Linked DNA regions of Homo sapiens. The protein of the gene in region 4 interacts with the protein of the main gene of each other region in a biochemical or structural test. Each region holds a gene or a part of one and is shown on either strand. Other genes may lie near its edges.

The links. The genes of interacting proteins can lie anywhere in the genome.
Region 1: the proteins of DLG1 (region 4) and RAPGEF6 interact in a test that uses a peptide from one of them, tested with the Homo sapiens proteins (one large-scale study listed by IntAct).
Region 2: the proteins of DLG1 (region 4) and SLCO1A2 interact in a test that uses a peptide from one of them, tested with the Homo sapiens proteins (one large-scale study listed by IntAct).
Region 3: the proteins of DLG1 (region 4) and JAM2 interact in a test that uses a peptide from one of them, tested with the Homo sapiens proteins (one large-scale study listed by IntAct).

What each region holds. Positions count from the first base shown.
Region 1 is NC_000005.10:131,428,109-131,433,261, forward strand, and holds part of RAPGEF6 (rap guanine nucleotide exchange factor 6), read right to left. Parts: intron 3,242-5,153; coding exon 2,751-3,241; intron 1,109-2,750; coding exon 794-1,108; intron 1-793. UniProt on the Homo sapiens protein: Guanine nucleotide exchange factor (GEF) for Rap1A, Rap2A and M-Ras GTPases. Does not interact with cAMP.
Region 2 is NC_000012.12:21,295,797-21,300,949, forward strand, and holds part of SLCO1A2 (solute carrier organic anion transporter family member 1A2), read right to left. Parts: intron 4,774-5,153; coding exon 4,552-4,773; intron 1,773-4,551; coding exon 1,608-1,772; intron 1-1,607. UniProt on the Homo sapiens protein: Na(+)-independent transporter that mediates the cellular uptake of a broad range of organic anions such as the endogenous bile salts cholate and deoxycholate, either in their unconjugated or conjugated forms (taurocholate and glycocholate), at the plasmam membrane.
Region 3 is NC_000021.9:25,645,226-25,650,378, reverse strand, and holds part of JAM2 (junctional adhesion molecule B isoform 1 precursor), read right to left. Parts: exon of another isoform or gene 3,247-5,153; intron 1-3,246. UniProt on the Homo sapiens protein: Junctional adhesion protein that mediates heterotypic cell-cell interactions with its cognate receptor JAM3 to regulate different cellular processes. Plays a role in homing and mobilization of hematopoietic stem and progenitor cells within the bone marrow.
Region 4 is NC_000003.12:197,062,960-197,068,112, reverse strand, and holds part of DLG1 (disks large homolog 1), read left to right. Parts: intron 1-1,358; coding exon 1,359-1,409; intron 1,410-2,303; coding exon 2,304-2,405; intron 2,406-2,648; coding exon of another isoform or gene 2,649-2,662; exon of another isoform or gene 2,663-2,664; coding exon 2,665-2,837; intron 2,838-5,153. UniProt on the Homo sapiens protein: Essential multidomain scaffolding protein required for normal development. Recruits channels, receptors and signaling molecules to discrete plasma membrane domains in polarized cells.

The sequences.
Region 1 (5,153 bases), on a different chromosome or scaffold from region 4:
CAAACAACCCACACCATTGGCTGGGTGTGGTGGCTCACACCTATAATCCCAACACTTTCGGAGGCTGGGGTGGGAGGACTGCTTCAGGCCAGGAGTTCAAAACCAGCCTGGTCAATATAGTGAGACCCTGTCTCTACAAAGGAAAAATTTAACAATGAGCCAGGCATGCTGGTGTGCACCTGTAGTCCCAGCTACTTGGGAGGCTGAGTTGGGAGGACTGCTTGAGCCCAGGAGTCTGAGGCTGTAGTGAGTCATTATTGTGCCACTGCACTCTAAGCTTGGGCAACAGAGTTAGACCCTATCTTGAAAAATAAAACAAAACCAAAACACTCCCCCATACTATATTTAGGAACTTTTTTTTTTTTTTTGGAGACAGAGTTTTGTTCTTGTTGTCCAGGCTGGAGTGCAATGGTGCGATCTTGGCTCACTGCAATCTCTGCCTCCCAGGTTCAAGCAATTCTCCTGCCTCAGCCTCCCGAGTAGCTGGGATTACAGGCATGCGCCATAATGCCTGGCTGATTTTGTATTTTTTTAGTAGAGACGGGGTTTCTCCATGTTGGACAGGCTGGTCAGGAACTCCCGACCTCAGGTGATTCGCCCGCCTCAGCCTCCCAAAGTGCTGGGATTACAGGTGTGAGCCACTGCACCCTGCCGGCAGGAACTTCTTACTTTTTAACAGAGATTCAAGGCATTTAAAGAAACAATTACTAATTACCATAAAATACCAAAGTAAAGACCATTTAATGTGTTCAGCAATTCATTTAAGAGCCTTTAAGAGAGCTTGTCAACATACCATCTGCTTCGCTATCTGCATCAGTCACATCTCCTAGTTTAGGATGGAATGGCTGCAAATTATGCCTCTGAGGCTGAGTTACAATCTTCGATGGAACACAGGCCACGAGGTTGCTACTGAGAGAAGCTGGTGGCAGTCTAGAGAGGCTGTTATGCATCATCTTTGACCTCTGCACTGCCACACTATAATCTGGAGGTTTTAGGTGTGTGTGGGGTCCTTCCTTTAGGTCCGCTAAAGAAATCCCCAAATATCCTGGAGGAGTGGGAGGTGGCTCCCTATACCTATCGTCCTTCTTGGGTGAGGTGACACAGTACACTGGCATGAAAAATAAGCAATGAAAATGTTAATGAAAAAGAAATGGAAAAAAAAAGAAACCACCCCACAAACTTATTACAATGACAAAATACAACTTAAAAATAGACAAAATGAATAAACTTGAATGATGGCAGATCAAAAACATTTTTTAAAAGTTTAATAAACAAACCTCTTTTTAAAATACATAAACAACTATATTAAGTCCTGTAAACATTAAATAGAACGAGAGAGTTGAAGGAGATGACACTGATGACAAGCTTCCTTCTGCAATTCAGCCCCCATATCACAGAAGTACATGACAACTCCTGAAGTCACACCAGCCCTAAAGATATCAGAAACATTTAAAAGTTCACCCTACACACCGATTCTCTGTAAACTGGGAGACTTTACATAGAAATGACATTTGGGCCATCTGTTTAAGGGCTGTTTCACCTTCTCTCTGAGACATGAACCAATGTTTTCTGGCACTCCTGGGCAGATTAGTTCTCAGTCCTAGCATATAAACTTTAACTTTGCTGGTACGGAGGAACTAATTCCTTCAAGAACTTTACTTCTGGCCAGGTGCGGTGGTTCACGCCTGTAATCCCAGCACTTTGGAGGCCGAAGTGGGTGGATCACCTGAGGTGAGAAGTTTGAGACCAGCCTGGCCAACATGAAGCCCCATCTCTACTAAAAATAAAAAAATTAGCTGGGCATGGTGGCAGGCACCTGTAATCCCAGCTACTTGGGAGGCTGAGAGAGGAGAATTGCTTGAACCTGGCAGGCGAAGGTTGCAGTGAGCCGAGGTCATGCCACTGCACTCCAGCCTGGGCAATACAGCAAGAGTCCATCTCAAAAAAAAAAAAAAAAGTTGGAAAAAAATGAATGAGCTAAAAACCCAACCTATAATGCAATTTGACAAGTAACTATAAAATCAGCACATTTCACCTTCACATTTTTAGTAGTTAAATGCGACACCATGACTGTTGCATAAATTTAACAGTTGATTATGATATTAATTCAAAGTAGAGTCATTCCATATAAGTAGAAAAGCAGTTTTATATCCACGTATTTATATAGTTTAGGAAAGAAATTTTTAAAAAGTATTTGATGGCCAAATACTAAAAAAAAAAGTTTACTAAGAAAGCTTGGAATGGAATTCACAAACAGGAGTTGGCACACTCATGATGTACACCAAGAGAGTATACTGAAAAATGTTCTGGACTTCCTGATTGCATTTTCTCTCACTGTTACGACCTAAAATCAATAGCAGATTCAATGTTTCTACCACGTATGCATACCAATTGTGGTCCAAACAATTTATGAGGTGATAAAGAGAATAATCCCTTTACTACTATTGCACACTAATGCGATGATATTCCTCAATAAAACCAAAAAGAACTTAAAAACAAAAGACAAACAAACTTGTCCCTCTAATTAAATACCTTCACATCAGACTTTTCATTTTAATGGGGTTGAATAGCTGCTCCAAAGTCTTTGAGAAACCATGAATTTTTGGGAAATAACTTGTTTGTTTGTGAAGGAAAGAAAGGTTGTTAGAGAATGAATTTTTGCGACGATAAAATCCAGGGCCAAGATATCCCAATGCCATTTTTTGACTACTTAATCTCTAAATGCCACAGACAACAAAAACACAACTTACCAATCAAGCCCTTTTCTGTACTTGAAGTGACAGTTTTATAAACTGGGTCAGTGGCATCCTTGGGGTCCAAGCCTTCAGATGACTCAGCTGGGGTGCTCTCCAATACTCTCTGTTTAACTGTCCCATAGTTTGGTTCATACGTGTCAGACAGAGAACTGGAGGAGGTCCAACTCTTTCTCTCTAGGCTTCCTTTACACTGCCCACAAGTTCTAGAGCAGCTTTTAGAACAGGAATAGGGCTCAGAGTCAGTGGGTTCAACTTCAGCAATGGGGTCATCCAAATGGGTATGTCTGTAAGAGTTCAAAAAATCCCAGCTTTTTGGGTTTGGAAGGCTTTGGAAGTTGTCATGGGAGCTGCTTGAACACGAAGTCCAACTTCCACGACCACTGTCAGCTGCTTCTATAATGATATGCTCTTGAGAAATCTCTTCATTGCTCACAGACGATGAGACAGCTAAACACTTGATTAGAGATGGCTTCAAGAGTGTCCACCTAAAATTGGAGATAACGTACAATTAGAAGGCTTGCCAGAAAAACTATCTTCTCTCTGTTTCAAGTTATTATTGCCTGTGAGAAACTACAGAGCACGTACCACAAGTGTTCATGCCAAATAACATCGTGAGGAAAACAATATTATCATCATTCATCACTATATTCCTTGTAAGTATTTAGTTAACACTCAGAAGACACAGTAAAGAAACTCTAATGCTTAGCAAAATTTCCTTAGAATTTTTCTTTTTAAATTTTAAAATGTTAGATATTTTTTTTTTTTTCGAGACAGGGTGTCACTCTGTTGCCCAGACCAGAGTGCAGTGGTTATTTACAGGCACGATCATGATGCACTGCAGCTTTTAACTCCTGGGCTCAAGTGATCCTCCCGCCTCAGCCTCCCCAGCAGCTGGGATGGACCAGAGGTATGCCTGGCAAGTATTTTTCTTGAACTGATTTTAAATGAAAATGTAAAGATGAGAGTTGAAATGAATAAGGTTAAGTATACATATTCATTTTTGGTCATCACAATATTAGACTACTGCGTCCATGCATACAGAATTAAGAGTTCCCAACTTGAAGAATCATGTTTTATTTTTCAACGTACCTCTGAGGTTAGCCCAGTACAGTGCCAAGTAAACAGCAACTTCCCCAATTACCCATGAAATGAATAATTTATAGCAGGGGTCCCCAAACTAAAGCTCATGGGCCAAATTTAGCCAACAGCCTATTTTTGTATGGTCTGGAGCAAAGAATAGTTCTGTTTTTTAACCTTTTAAAAGGTTAAAAAAGAAAAGAAAACAAAACCAAACCAGAAGAATTTGTGACAGAGACTATATGTAGATTGCAGAGGCGAAAATATTTACTACCCAGCCCTTCACAAAAAAAAGTTTGTAAACCCCTCATTTACAGTATAGTGCAGGGGGTAGCAAACTACAGCCCAGGGCCAAATCTGGTGGTCTCTTTGCTCGTTTTTGTAAATAAAGTTTTGGCTGGGCGTGGTGGCTCACGCCTGTAATCCCAGCACTTTGGGAGGCCGAGGCGGGCGGATCACGAGGTCAGGAGATCGAGACCATCCTGGCTAACATGGTGAAACCCTGTCTCTACTAAAAATACAAAAAATTAGCCGGGCGTGGTGGTGGGCGCCTGTAGTCCCAGCTACTCGGGAGGCTGAGGCAGGAGAACAGCGTGAACCCAGGAGGCGGAGCTTGCAGTGAGCCGAGATCGCGCCAGTGCACTCCAGCCTGGGCAACAAGAGTGACACTCTGTCTCACAGAGCGAGACTCCGCCTTAAAAAAAAAAAAAAGTTTTACTGGGACACAGTCATGCCATTTGTTTATGTGTTGTCTATGGCTATTCTGGTGTAATAGCAGAGTAGTTGTGACAGAGGCCTTATGGCCTGTGAAGTCTAAAATGTTTACTATGTAACTTTTATAGAAAACATTTGCTGACCTCTGGTGTAGAGATCCTAGTTTAGAAATCTTTATAAATGTGGTAATAATTTATCTTAAATTTTTCATATTAAAGTAGACCAGATTTCACAATATTTATCAGTTAGAATAAACTTTCTCAAAGATTTCCACGTTGCTTGATTCTAAATAGAAATTTAGAGTTGATTTTTTTTTTTAATTAACCTTTGCTAGGTGATTATTCTTACTCCCCAAATTACACTTTCAGAGGACAGAGATCAAGGGCTAGTCCTACTCTCCCAACCTGTCTACAATGTGCACAGCACTCGAGGCACTTTCCAAAACACAACCTTTTTGATTAACCTATAGCCAGAATTTCAAAAATTATCTCCCCTATATAAGTAGCAGATGCACTTTGAGTTCTGACTGGAAAGATACATAATGATAAAAAGTTACTTGAATTTAGTAACACTTTAAAAATGAACACCCATACATCTTTCAACATA
Region 2 (5,153 bases), on a different chromosome or scaffold from region 4:
AAATGCAAATAAAATATTATTTACAAAATGACTTACCAAAGGAACAAATATGTTATCACTTTTATGTAATATGCCTTATATAAGTAACTATTTAGGTCCAACTCATAGTGAAGAAGAATGATTTAATTTTATCCCCACTTAGTTACACATTACCCACAGGGAGATTTTGAAATGCCCCCATAATGGGGAAGTATATTTTGGGAGACTCTTGTTATTATATTATCATTCATTTAACTCATTGCAGTAGCTTGTGAATTTCTTATAGGCAGAGATCATGATAAAAATCTCTTTTCTTAGGATCCAGGTAGAAGTGGCAAGTCAAAATTGGCCAGTAATTTATTCATTTATTACCCTCTATTCTGTGTAGTGAGAATATATATATACAATTTTTCAGTTACCTATCCTCACTTTGGTTGTGAAGAATTAGACTCCTCTCAAAGTGCTTTTTCTTTTCTTTTTTTAGAGACAGAATCTTGCTTTATTGCCCAGGCTGGAGTGCAGTGATATGATCATAGCTGACTGGAGCCTCAGCTTCCTGGGCTTAAGAGATGCTCCCACCTCAGCCCTCTAAGTAGCTGGGACTACAGGTGCACAACACCACACCTGGCTAATTTAAAAACAAAAATTGCAGAGACAAAGTCTTGCTATGTTGTCCAGGCTGGTCTTGAACTCCTGGCCTCAAGTGATCCTCACTCCTCAGCATCCCAAAGTGCTGGAATTAAAGGCATGAGCCACCACACCCAGTTCAAGGTACTTTAGAGAGTCACTTTGCTGAGCCTGTTGCTGTCAAGTGTATTTACATTTCATGTCTTGCTGCTACTGGCTCTTCCTCTCTGAACCCTTCCCAATAAGTGAAAAAAAAGAATAGAAAAAGGAGAAGATAGCCCTAGGTTCCATCTATACAATGTGAGCATCTGGCTCCCCGAATCATATTATTGAGAGAGCTTGTTAAAAATCCATTCCAGAGCCCCACGCCCTAGAGTCTGATTCAGTGTGTCTGAGGGGGAACCCCAGGTATTTGAAGCTTTCACAAGCACTTTAGGTAGTGTGGATACAAGTAGCCTGGGATATTGACTTTTAAAAACAGTGGAAAGATCCCAGGAAAAACCCAAGTTAGGCTAAAACCACTGAGGTTAGTGTGGTTGCAGGAAAAGCCGAATGTGTGTGGCTGCAGAGACACCTAAAACCACTAGGGGGACCAAAAAATTAAATTAGGAGGAACATAGAATCCTTGAACTGGAACCAAAAAGAGTAAAATTTGGTAGTAAAATGCACAATCCTATCTGAAAATATGTAATTTTTGCACTCCCAAATATTTGCATTCATATTATGAATTCACATTCTGACTTCAGAGAGAAGAAAATCAAGGTATTTCTGACCTCTTCCCTTCCCTACCCTTTCTTTCTTTCCTTCTTTCCTTCCTTCTTTCCTTCCTTCTTTCTTTCTTTCTTTCTCTTTCTTTCTTTCTTTCTTGAGATTAGAAGGAAGAAATCCACCAGAGTCAAAAAATATCCTAAAACACTTCAACTTAGGAGTTTGCTACACCCGCCATCACACTGTTCGTGGGGGGGAAAGTGTGCTAGTAAGGCAGAGAAAAACAAACATACCCATTAGAAAGATTGCATCTGAAGATGATATTCCATATTGCTGTTCTAGGTATTTAGGCATGAAGGAGATCATGTTAACGAATGCATTGAACTGTATCACACTTACAAGTATGAAAAGCATATAAATTGGATTGCAGGAAAGACTTTTCATGAAAGGTAGAAAATCTGAAATGAAAGAATGACAACTGTGTCAAACGAACTTGGCTTTGCATTTTGTGACTGGCTTTTCCTGAAACATCCACCTCCTCAACAAATTATGTTTTTTACTATTTTGTAATATGTATTGTTTGCTAATTCTTTTTTCCCCTTGAAAGCTGAAGTCATAGCAATGTTTTGGTGGCTTCTGGAAGTCAGTGATGTAGCTGACTGGGTAGGGATCAGAACACAACAGTTTTGCCCTCAATAAGTCACTGTTGAGTCTTAAAGATCAGTAAGCAAAACTACAAAGTGACCAAAATATTGTCTACGTCCACAGCATTTTATTACTAACCTTTTGTTCTTCTATTAATATATTCTTTTTTCTACAGCTCATTAGAATGAAAGATGCTTGTTCTGTTCTGTAAAGTCTGGAGGAAAATCGAGTTGATAAAGAAGATTTCACACAAATATTTATTTTATCACTCCCTGAACATTTGAAATAAAGATGTGTGGGAATTAATGAGATATGAATGTTCTCAAGTATCCGGAATTTTTTTTTGCTTCTTCAGAACAACAGTTTCAGTGGTTCTGCCATTGGTTCTCAGCAAGATCTACCTGGAGATATTTTTTAAAATACCAACATCCAGGTCCCATCCTCAGAGATGCTGATTCATTTGGTACATTCTAAGGACTATGTAAATGATTTAATCAAAAATGATTCCTGTTAGAAAAAGCACAGAGCCAAATGTGTGGCCTGCCTCTAGTAATGTTTGGCCTGCTTCTAGTAATGTGTGGCCTGCCTCTAGTAATGTGTGGCCTGCTTCTAGTAAATGTTCTTGGTCACACTGCTACCATTCAGGCTCAAGTTCTCACTTTTAATTTCCTTTCACTTTTCCTGTCCACATGTTCTCTGTCTTGACTTTCTTATGCACAATCTTGGTTTGCTTAATAAACTGCTCACAATTCATTCTGGAACAAAATTTCAATAAATAAACAATTTAGAAGAGGAGGACACACAGATTAATGCAAGTAAATGAGTTATAATTGTAAAATTTATATTTATGAATAGGGTACCTGACAGGAGAGAGAGTTATCTGAAGATTTTTAAGTCACCCATGTTTGTTGACATCCCTGTCCTAATAGATGAGTTTCAGTAGCACAAGTTTCTTTTCTATGTCTTGCAACAAGCTAAGCTCTTTCCTAATTTTGAAAATGGAACTGATCTTGCAGACTGCAAGAGGTCTATCAGTCCATAACAATCCTTTAAGAAGAGTTTTTAATATCATCAGAATGATTCTGAGAATTTGCAAGATTCTGAGTTGGCTCCTAATGACCAAAGATGTATTAAATTATGCTCAATTATGATTTAAGAGAATTTACAATTGTTAAGAAAAATTCTATGCAAATTGACATTGTAACTTATGGGTGATGATAGAAACAACAATGACAACATAAAAGTACTAACACTAGTATCAGTATTAATAATAATGTGTGCTAGAATGTCTTTTACCTTCACACAACAATTCTATAGTAAGTACTATTATTATCCCCATTTGACAGAAAACTGAGACCCTCACCATCCGTCAAATAAACATTTTTAAGTTCCAATAGCCAGGCTGCACATCCACACTAATTAAATCTGACCTTTTGGGAATACTACAGAACTTTCAGGCATCAATCATTTTTAAAATTTCCTAGGTGATTCCAATGTGCAGCCAAGTTTGAGCATCAGTGCTCTTGAGTACTAAATACTTAGGCTATCTTAGTTTAGTTTCCCACAGAAAAACCTTCTGTAAATTATACTTTGAGCTTTTATTGAGGTTCTGTACCAAAAAAAATGTTACATGCAATTTACCCTTTCATTTGCTGGAAAACCACTATGTGGCTCAATATTACCTGTATCATGTATCTTATGATCATTTTTAAATTTTTTTACAATTTCTTCCTTGGAGAACTGCTTCTGTTTAAAAATTATTATTCTTCCCTCTACCAAGTATAGAGAGGTGGGTCACCGATCATGTTTTTTTTTTTCTTTCTGATTTAACTTCCAGGAAGCTCTTCGTTAAACTAACACACTGGTTACAAAACTATACTACCTATTAAGATTAGAGTATACTTTTTCCTACTTTTGTTCTTAGTTTAAATTTGCTTGTTCATTTTGTTTCAATTCAACCTATGTTCTCTGTAAAATCGGTTTTTTGAGCAAATGGGACCATATATATACGTGTGTATATATATATATATATATACACACACACGTATATATATACACACACACATATACACACACATATATGTGTATATATATACGTGTATATATATATACGTGTGTGTATATATATATACGTGTATATATATATATACGTGTGTGTATATATATACATGACCCTCTCTCTCCTCTCTCTCATATATATATGTGTGTGTGTACATATATATGTGTATATATGTGTGTAGATATATGTGTGTGTACATATATATGTGTATATATGTGTGTATATATATATGTGTGTGTACATATATATGTGTGTGTATATATATATGAAAGAGAGAGAGAGAGGAGAGTGCCAAGACTGACATAAAAGTTTACACAAATGCTGATCTGAAATATTTCAGCTTCCAAATTATAATATTTATTTTCAAGTAGTACCATAGGAAGAATCGGACTAGTTAGGTATTCTTGACTGGTGACTGTTGATGACAAATTGTCTCAACACAGCATAGCATATCATAGTGTTAGACTAAAATACAGACATATCTATATGAAATAAAAGGTCAATTTCATAGTATTTAGAATATGTATATTTGCCTTTAGTGATTCCATATTTTTCCTTCTTGACCTCTTCTTTTTGTTTGTCTTCATTTTCATTTTTAATGATGTCAGCATTAGTCTCTAGTCCTTCCTTTGGAAGTGTGTTGGGCAAAAAGAAAAAAGGAATGGCAGTGAGCACGTTAACTCCTGCACAAATCAGAAAGCCAAACCACCATGCACCGACCCAACGAGTGTCAGTGGGAGTTATGATCAGATCATCTGTAAAAAAATACACACACTGTTATTAGCTTAAGTCAGTATTTTCTGTATGAACTATAGAAAATTATTAAAATTAGAATTATCGGGTCCCAACCAACTATAAAATTGGCTTATAATTCAGACACTGATAAAATTTTTCTAATAATATGTGGTGTTGTAATATTGTCTAGTAATAAATTAGGCTGGTTATCTGTCTATCATGTAAGGGATTTAAAAGCAGGTATTAACTAAACAGCTACAAGTTCTATTTCATCATCAACAAATGATTGCTTAAAGTTCTATTTCATCATCAACAAATGATTGCTTAATTGAAATAAATTCAAACCTACATGCTTAAATTTTGTAAAACCAAGAAATATAGTTGAAGTGCACTAGAAATA
Region 3 (5,153 bases), on a different chromosome or scaffold from region 4:
TCCAGGGGTAATTTTTTAAGTGCTAATGAGCAAGTGTCAAGATCCCACAAAATCATTAAAAGTAACGGCTAAAACTGCAGTTACTTTTGCACCAACCTATAAAAATACTGGACAAGAACACCTAGGAAAATCATCTTTGATTTGGAAATGAAGATCACTTTATCAGGCTCTACAATGGTTTAAATGTGTTCCTCAGAATTCATGTATAGGAAATTGAGTTCCCAGTATAATGGTGTTGAGAGGTGGTAGGACCTTTAAGAGGTGTTTGGGTCATGAAGACTCTGCCACCCTCACGAAGATATTAGTCCCATTCTCATAGGACTGGGTTAATTCTCACAGAAGCAAATGAGTTCTTGTTCTCATGGGACTAGATTAGTAACTGCAAGAGCAGGTTGTTAAAAAATGAGGCCATCACTTGTGTTTTGTCTCTTTTGCACATACTTGCTTGCTGCTCCTGCAGGTGTTTCCACATGTGATGCCATTCACTATGCTTTAATGTAGCATGAGGGCCTTGCCAGAGGTAGCTGCCCAATGTTGAACTTCCCAGGCTCCAGAACTGGGAGCCAAGTAAACCTCTTTTGTTTATAAATTACCCAGTCTCAGGTGTTCTGTTACAGCAACAGAAATAGACTAAAACAGTCTCTATTGTCTCATCTCTCTTAATAAACTTTTGCTCATTATGGGATATAGATTGCTATTATATCAATTGAGTAACAAAGAGATTAGGCCATGAGGGGAAAGTCTGGAGATTCCCTGCTCCAGAGAGTAGAACTTTTACAACTAACATGCTAATACGGTTTGGTTGTGTCGCCACCCAAATCTCATCTTGAATTGTAGTTCCCATAATCCCCACATGTTGTGGGAGAGACACGGTGGCAGGTAATTGAATCATGGAAGTGGTTACCTCCATGCTTTCTTTTCTCATGATAGTGAATGAGCTCTTATGAGATCTGATGATTTTATAAAGGGCTTTCCCCGCTTTTGCTCGGCACTTCTGCTTCCGGCCATCAAGTAAAGAAGAATGTGTTTGCTTCCCCTTCTGCCATGATTGTAAGTTTCCTGAGGCCTCCCCAGCCATGCGAAACTGAGAGTCAATTAAACCTCTTTCCTTTGTAAATTACCCAGTCTTGGGCAGTCCTTTACAGCAGCGTGAGAACACACTAATACGTGCTTTGTTCTAGTCTAGATTAAGCAACTTTTGAGGGGTGTATTGTTTGACTCATCTGAGTTTTTAATCAATGCTTACTAATTCAAGAGGAACTTATGTGCTTTTAGGATATAAGGAGGCATCAGGAAATCTGGAAAATTTCTTAAAATCCTATAAGGCAGACCAGTCTTTATATTTCCTTATATCTTAGGGAGGCCACTGTTAAAAAGAGGAGGAGGGAGTTTTAGGAGCAGTAATATTATGCATTCATTTGAGACTATTAATTTTACATATGTCTTGAGGTTTTTATTGCTAAAAAGTTATATAATTTTATGAAGCTACAAAACAAATAAACATTAAATTCCAGCTTATGTAATTCTACTTAATCAAGTATTAAATGTGCCAGGCAGTACTCTAGGTACCAACGACCTAAAGATGTGTTGTCTCTGCCTCCAGCAAGCTCACAATACAGAGAGATATACATGGAAAAATTGTAACAGTACAGCTCAGTAAGTGCCATAAGAGAATAAAGAATATACCAAAAGCACCAGAGTATAATATACAGTAGACATCAGCTTTGAGGAATTGATGAGTTGGAAAGAATTAAGAGAAGGCGCAAGGAATTTTGGAGTTAGACCTTCAGGGAGAAATTGCATTTGGCCATATGAGGAACAATAGCAACAACAACAGAGATGAATGGAGGTTGGGAAGAAGTACTGTATCTAGATAAAATGGCATAGATGTTCACTCGTTTACACACACACACACACACACACACACAAACACACGGCACAAAAGAACCTGACTTGTTCTGGATCCAAAAGCACTATATGGACAGTACAATAATCTCATGTCTCCAATATGCTTAGGTACAATTTTAATGTTTTATGACATAGATGGCTGCATGTTTCAGTTATTGGACAAATGCATACTTGAGTTATTGTTTATTCCATTGTGTCAGTTCTGCTTCTGATCAAAATCCATTCCTATTTGAAAATGCATCTAGTGAATTTTTTTTTTTGAGACAGAATCTTGCTGTGTTGCCCAGGCTGGAGTGCAGTGGCACAATCTCAGCTCATTGCAACCTCCGCCTCCCACGTTCAAGTGATTCTCATGCCTCAGCCTCCTGAGTAGCTGGGACTACAGGTGCATGCCACCATGCCCAGCTACTTTTTGTACTTTTAGTAGATACAGGGTTTCACCACGTTGGCTAGGCTGGTTTCAAACTCCTGACCTCAGGTGATCCACCCGTCTTGGCCTCCCAAAGTGCTGGGATTACAGGCGTGAGTCACAGCGCCCAGCCCTCTAGTGCATTTTTTAAAAAACATAAACACCATTCTCTCTTTTCAAATTTAGCACTTGCCCAGAAGTTTGACATGTTCCCTTTTTATTTGTGGTCATTATTTCCTCTTTGGTCTCCTTTAAAAATAGCACCCCTTTGCACTTGTCTGTGAATCTTAGCTGGTGCTAGTGTCTCTGTCCTCTCTGGGTGCACACACGTTCTCCTTTGGACTTTTTAACTGGATCTTGCTTGGAATTTTTCCCTTTCCATATTTGGTTACTGGTTTGGAAGTTTATTTCCCTTTGTTTTACTAATCATTTTGTTCCATTATTTTTGGTGGTTCTAGTTAGAAAATAGCTCCCACTGCATTTTGGTGCAACAATTTTAAAGGCCTCTATAAGATGTTATCTTCTGTCCTGCTTGTAGACTGAGCTTTAGGTTGTACCTTAATTACTAACATAAATAACTTTTTGGAGCAAGGTGCACAACACTATATATAATATGATTTGATTTTCTGGAAGGTATACAGCAGTAAGCATAATAAATTGTGATCTTTATTTCTAAAGAAATTATAAGAGTATGCTTATATATACTGGAACTATTTCTTTTCTAATTTCCTGAAACCATTTGCAGGAAACTTAAGGATGGTCTATCTGAGAAGCAAAGGAGTCAGGAAGGCTGGAAAGGAGACTTATTTCTTGTTTTGTAAACTTACTGCTCTGTTTGAATTTACCCTAAGCATATATTATTTTTAGTTAGACATATAAGAAAATGTGTTTAACAATTCATTCATTTTTATCTTTGGTTTTGTCCATAGTATGTATTTAGGAAGTTTCACAATGTGAAGAAAGCGAAGAGTAAAAACAGCAGGTGACTGCATTGACAAAATGAAAGCAAGCAAATTGGACAAACCTAGCATAAAGAAGACAGACCAGGTTATGCATTTTTACTCCTTACAAATATAAAGACAAGCCCGTCCTAAATTATCCCAGTAGAAAATTTTGACAACTACAACAAAACAGAAAACCCAACAAAACAAATAAAAATTTGATGCTGATGACATGCGATAAAGAAAAGCAGAGCTCTCCAGTAAAAACCAAAATTCCTGTCTGTTAAGTTTACAAGGATTCTTCCTTAGGACTTTCTGAGCCAAGACAATGGACAGCTAAGAGGGCAGCTCTTGAAATACTTTCACAGGATTTGCTTCTCTGCTCATAAAATGTAGGAACAATTCAAACTGGAGAGCATTTCCTACCCATTCACTGGCCTGAAGATTCATAGAGTAGGGTTTTGTGTTGCTGTCAGCAGGCATTTATCTGAGCACACATCCATCCATCCTCCCTCTCTCTCTCTCTCTCCTTCTCTCTCTCTCTCTTTCCCCCCACACCCGATGCATGCATACACTCACACACTTTGGAACTTAGAAGGCCACTCTTCTGAATATCAAATCAAGTAAAATGACCATTCTAAGGGTGACAACTCAGGGAAACTCTGGAAACACTGGAAACAAATACTGAAAATAAACTTACGTGTGGGAGAGAGAATAACATTGAAAGAAGGTATACATAGTAACCAAAAGAGCTACTGTTTCATGTTTATAGGTTGGGAACTGAACAGAAAGTTGAAAACACAGCACACATGATTAAAAAATTTTTTCCTTAAAAACCAAAGAGCCATTTTTCTTAAATTCCTGATCAGATTTAATTAACTACATTTCAAATGCAGTCATGCACTGCATAATGACATTTTGGTCAACAATGAACCATATCAGTGGTCCCACAGATTATAATGGAGCTGAAAAATTCTTATCATCTAGTGATGCTATAACGCCCGTACTGCTGTAACACAAGAACTTTATTGTTTTATAAATTTAGTGTAGCCTAAGTGTACAGTGTTGATAAAGTCTACAGTAGTATACAGTAATGTCCCAGGCCTTCACATTCACTCACCACTCACTCACTGACTCACTCAGAGCAACTTCTAGTCCTGCAAGCTCCACTCATGATATGTTTCTACACAGGTGTACCATTTATCTTTTGTGCTGTTTTTACTGTACCTTTTCCATGTTTAGATATGTTTAGGTACACAAATACTTACAACTGTTTACCGTTGCCTACAGTATCCAGTACAGTAACATGCTGTATAGGTTTGTAGCCTAGGAGCAATAGGCTACACCATATAGCCTTGGTGTGCAGCAGGCTCTACCATCTAGGTTTCTGTAAGTACACTCTATGATCACACAATAACAAAATCACCTAACGACACATTTCTCAGAACACATCGCATCATTAGGTGACAACTGTAAAAAGCAATTGTCAGTGGTTATATGTGTATGTGTAATTATGTGAGTATATTTATCAATAAACTATATAAAATAAGTACTTACACAAGCAATTGCCTGGACTACTCCAATAACTTCTAACTGGTCTCCCCAGTTTGACTCCCCCCACCCCAATCCTTCCATTCACCATACTCCATCCAATGCATTCTCTTTAAAATGCAAATCAAACTGATATTCAATGTCAAAAGGCTTCAATGGCTTCTTCAGTTTACTAAGTGTGTTATACATGTAATTCTCCCTAAACCTCTATGAGGTAAGCACTCTTATTGGGATTATCACCAACACTGATGAGTAAACTGACATAATACAGGTGTTAACCTGTATAAGATCACACAGCTGGTAAGAGCACAGAGTGCTGCATTGGAGTGCATGTTCTTTACCAC
Region 4 (5,153 bases):
CTAAAACAGAAAAGAATGTTTATGCCAATGTATGGATTTAAAAGACCTACAGCTACATACATATAATATAAACCAATTGCAAAATTCATGGTAAAATTGTTATAGGATCTTGATAATTAAAGAGAAAGTCTTCAAATACATTATCCAATATTGATTGCTTTCATTGAACCACTTGGGTTAACACAGTCTTTTCTAATTTTAGGCGTGGGGGTGAGGGGGGATGTGTGTGTGTTAGTTTAAAACTCCTAGAGTTTTTGGCCGGGCGCGGCGGCTCACGCCTGTAATCCCAGCACTTTGGGAGGCCGAGGCGGGCAGATCACCTGAGGTCAGGAGTTCGAGACCAGCCTGACCAACGTGGAGAAACCCTATCTTTACTAAAAATACAAAATTAGCTGGGCATGATGGCACATGCCTGTAATCCCAGCTACTTGGGAGGCTGAGGCAGGAGAACCGCTTGAACCCGGGAGTTGGAGGCTGCAGTGAGCTGAGATCATGCCATTGCACTCCAGACTAGGCAACAAGAGCGAAACTCCGTCTCAAAAAAAAAAAAAAAAAAAAAAACTCTCAGAGTTTTTAACTATTTATTTCTTTTCACTGGATTCAGATATTCAGATATAATTTGTAGACTCTTTTATTTAGAGTATTTCCTAAGCTCCGAACCTTTAATTTAACCTTTAGAAGCTTTAACTTCTTGTGTTTTTAAGGTCAAAGCAAATATATTTATCTCCTTTACTATCACTGTTGTTTATTTTCTTGGAAGGATTTAGTTTTATCTAAAGCTCTTTTTGACTCACATTAAATTTATTATTTTTTTACAAAGTTGAGTTAGTGAATTTTTCATCAGTGAAATAGTAACAGTAGTTTTACCTTTGCATTTATAATTTTTAATTTTAAGATGTAATTATTTTAAAAATAAAATATACTGTATTCAGTATTGTAGTTGGTGGAACAAAAAAAGTAGCATGTTTTTAATAGTAACAAATTACCTAATACGTAGATAGATGATAGACAGATCTGCTCATTAAAGCATTAATCTTTAACAGATTTAATAATTCTTAGATTCTAAATAAAGGAGTAGCACATAGCATCACAAATGAAGATTTTTAGATTTGATTATCTATAAAATATAATATTGATTATATAGCCCATTTGTATTTTGTTTTACATTTAGCAAACTCACTTTTAAGACTTTATAATTTGACACTTTTTTTTAACTAAATCTTGCCATAAAGTACCTCTTTCCATATCTTTGCCATTTTCTCAGGAAAGTTCTAGTAATGTATATGTTGTTTATGAAGAATTAGATTAGCATCAATTATCTTTACACATTTTTCATCTGTGCCTTCACTTTCTAATAGGTGGTCAAGAAGAATACGTCTTATCTTATGAACCAGTGAATCAACAAGAAGGTTTGTGAAGCCTATTGATGTTTTATAACCTTCTAGAAGAATATACTTTTTAATTTGGGGGAAAAAAATTCTCATACCCCAAAAAATGTTGTATTAAAATTTTTTTTTACTACATATACATGTAGAAATTTACTACATGTGTTTTATGAAACATAGTTTACTCCACAGAATATTAGAATCTAGTCATTTCATACTGACTTTTATATTTGTGTTTTATTTCCCAAGCAACTTTGTTCCAGTGTTCTTGTTAGCATCACTATCTTCCAAATAACCCTTTTTTGAAAATCTTGGAAGTATCTTTGAGCCTTCTCTGTTCCTCCTCCTCCTCCTCATCCAGTTAGGTTCCAGGCACTGTTTATCCCACTTCTTTCTTATTTATGACCTTCTTTTCATCCCTTCTATCACAATGTTAGTTCTCAGTCTCACTACCAATCTCCATTATTCCAGCATGATCCCAGACCACCCAGAGTTTACACTTCTGTTAGATCATCTTTCTAGAATGCTACTACTGGGATTATATCACTTCCTACATCCAGTTTCTGTTCTGCCCTTCTTTGCTCTGCTTCCTTACAATTTCTACTTCAAAGCCATCTGTAAAACACTAGACTTTATTCTGTCATTTGCAATGTAAAGAAACATTATCTGCGAAAACACCAAATTTAACTTGATTGAATTATCAATATGACTTCTAGCAGAAGACTAAGTAAAGTTTAAGATCTGAGTCAAGATTATAAAAGAGCAAGTTACGCATCTTTGGTTGATGGTAGAGTGAGATGGAGAGGGAAGAAAAAAATTAGTCATAACAGTTAAGGATATTTTTGTTCGCTGGTGAAATAAAATACATTGATATTTGTTGAATGTTTATTCCTTTTAACATGCAGTTTATCTTTATAGTTAATTATACTCGACCAGTGATCATATTGGGACCTATGAAAGACAGGATAAATGATGACTTGATCTCAGAATTTCCTGACAAATTTGGATCCTGTGTTCCTCGTAAGTAAACCAAACAAAAACATTTAATTGTTACTCTTAACATTTCCTGTCACTGTGTGTGGGAAAAATAGATATAACCATTTTTTAATGGTTTGTACTTATTTTATCAGTTACTCTTCCATCCTCCATATTATTGTCCTTTCTCAGATTTAAATTAATCTGTTCTGTTGAACTTTACAAAACGATGTAAGTAGAAAATGGATTTATTGTGGTTTTTTTTTTAATATTAAACACTTTCCCAAGTTTTTTTCTGTTAAAGATACAACTAGACCAAAACGAGATTATGAGGTAGATGGAAGAGATTATCATTTTGTGACTTCAAGAGAGCAGATGGAAAAAGATATCCAGGAACATAAATTCATTGAAGCTGGCCAGTATAACAATCATCTATATGGAACAAGTGTTCAGTCTGTACGAGAAGTAGCAGAAAAGGTAAGCATCAGACTAATCCCAGAATATAGCTTCTAATCAGATATGCCTTTGACAGTATGCAAGACTGGTAGGATAGATACAGCACTAATTAGTTTTGTTAATGTGATGAATTTGCTTACCTAAATAATTAATTTTCCATGGCTTAGGAAAGTGCATACAAGATAAAACAGGTAAATAAGGTAAACAAAGAAAGTGAAAATAGAAATGATAACATGAATGTAAGAGAAGTTATTTTCAGGTCATTTGCTAGAGATAGACCTTTTGTTTAGGCCTAGCTCTCCAGCATATATTAAAAGGAGATAAGGGCCGGGTGTGGCAGTGCACCCTTACAGTCCTAGCTACTGAGAAGGCTGAGTTGAGAGAATCACTGAAGCCTGGGAGTTTGAGGCTGCAGTGAGCTATGAGCATGCCACTGAACTCCAGCCTGGGCAACAGAACAAGACCCTGGCTCTTAAAAAAAGAAAAAAAAAGAAAGATCAATAAATCTAACCACTTAAAATTTTTAAAAAACTTTTTTTATGGCCAAAGACTTTTTCCAAAAACTATTGGAAAACACCATTAACAATGTCAAAAGACAACTGACAGAAAAAATTTGCAAGAAAAGGGCTAATATTCCCAATATATAAAGAACTCATAAAAACAGGGAACAGAGACCAGAAACCCAATAGAAAAAAACAGTGGACAAAAGATCAGAATATATAGTTCACACAAAAATAAGATATAAAATGGCCTTTGTACATAGGAAATGACGTTCAACTGTAGTCATTATTAAAGAAATGTAAAGGCCGGGTGCGGTGGCTCACGCCTGTAATCCCAGCGCTTTGGGAGGCCAAGGCAGGCGGATCACCTGAGGTTAGGAGTTCAAGACCAGCCTGGCCAACATGGTGAAACCCCGTCTCTACTAAACATACAAAAATTAGCCAGGCTTGGCAGTGCATGCCTTAATCCCAGCTTCTCAGGAGGCTGAGGCAGGAGAATTGCTTGTACCTGGGAGGTGGAGGTTGCAGTGAGCCGAGGTCGTGCCGTTGCACTCCAACCTGGGTGACAAGAGTGAAACTCTGCCTCAAAAAAAAAAAAAAATAAGGCCAGGCACAGTGGAAGGCTGAGGTGGGTAGATCACCTGAGGTCAGGAGTTCAAGACCAGCCTGGCCAACATGGCAAAACCCCATCTCTACCAAAAATACAAAAATTAACTTGGCGTGGTGGTGCATGCCTGTAATCCTGGCTAAGGAGGCTGAGGCAGGAGAATCGCTTGAACCCAGGAGATTGCAGTGAGCCAAAACCATGCCACTGCACTCCAGCCTGAGCAACAGAGCAAGACTCCATCTCAAAAAAAAAAAAAAAAAATGTAAATTAAGAAGACTACTCTAAATTCAATTTCTCCCCTATCAGATTCAGGGAGAAATATGAAGACATTTTCTTGGTGAGACTGAGAGAAAACAGTTGTGCATTGCTGGTGGAAATGCAAACTGGTACTGCCTTTTGGAAGGGTATTTGGCAATATCTAGCAGCTTTCCTTCAACCCAGCATCCCACTTCTAGGAATTTATTCCAAAGATATACCCCAACAGTATGAAAATACATGGGCAAAAGGGTATTTATTCATTGTAGCATTGTTTATAATTGTGAAATACTGAAAATCATCTAAATGCCCAGATAAAAGTGATTGAATTAATTTTACATTCACAAAATGAAGTTCTCTAAAACTGTTAATAAGGTATTTGAACTGATACACAACATGCAAAAGAATATCTACGGTATAAAATAAGAGAAAATGGGAAAATACAAATCTCTGCTCAGTTGTGTGAAAATAAGCACAGGAAAGGTAAATCAGAACTTAATGAGGTTGGTTACCTACAGAGGGAGTGATGTAGAGAGGGAATTTGGAATGGGATGGAAAGGATGAGGGGTATGACATTTCTCTGAGTATACATTTTTGTATTATTTTAACTTTTAGAAAGTATGTTAGTATTTTACATATTTAAAAAAATCAAAAATAAAAGCAACAAAGAAAGATGGGGGAAAAGCAAAATGATACATAAGTAGAAACTAAATAAACCTGACTGTATTTCTTTTTTTTTTTTTATACTTTAAGTTTTAGGGTACAATAAACCTGCCTGTATTTCAAATGAATAACTTAACTACATTGAAGAGGGGAGAAGTCTTAATCCCAGAGATTCTTTAACACAAGCTGAAGACAGATCTGTAAACAAAATAAAACTCTAATTAGTAGGTTTGTTGGGTGGAGTGTATGGGCTTACAGTTCTGAAACTAATATATATTCTAGGGTTGAGCAAATAAACTAATACAATGGCAG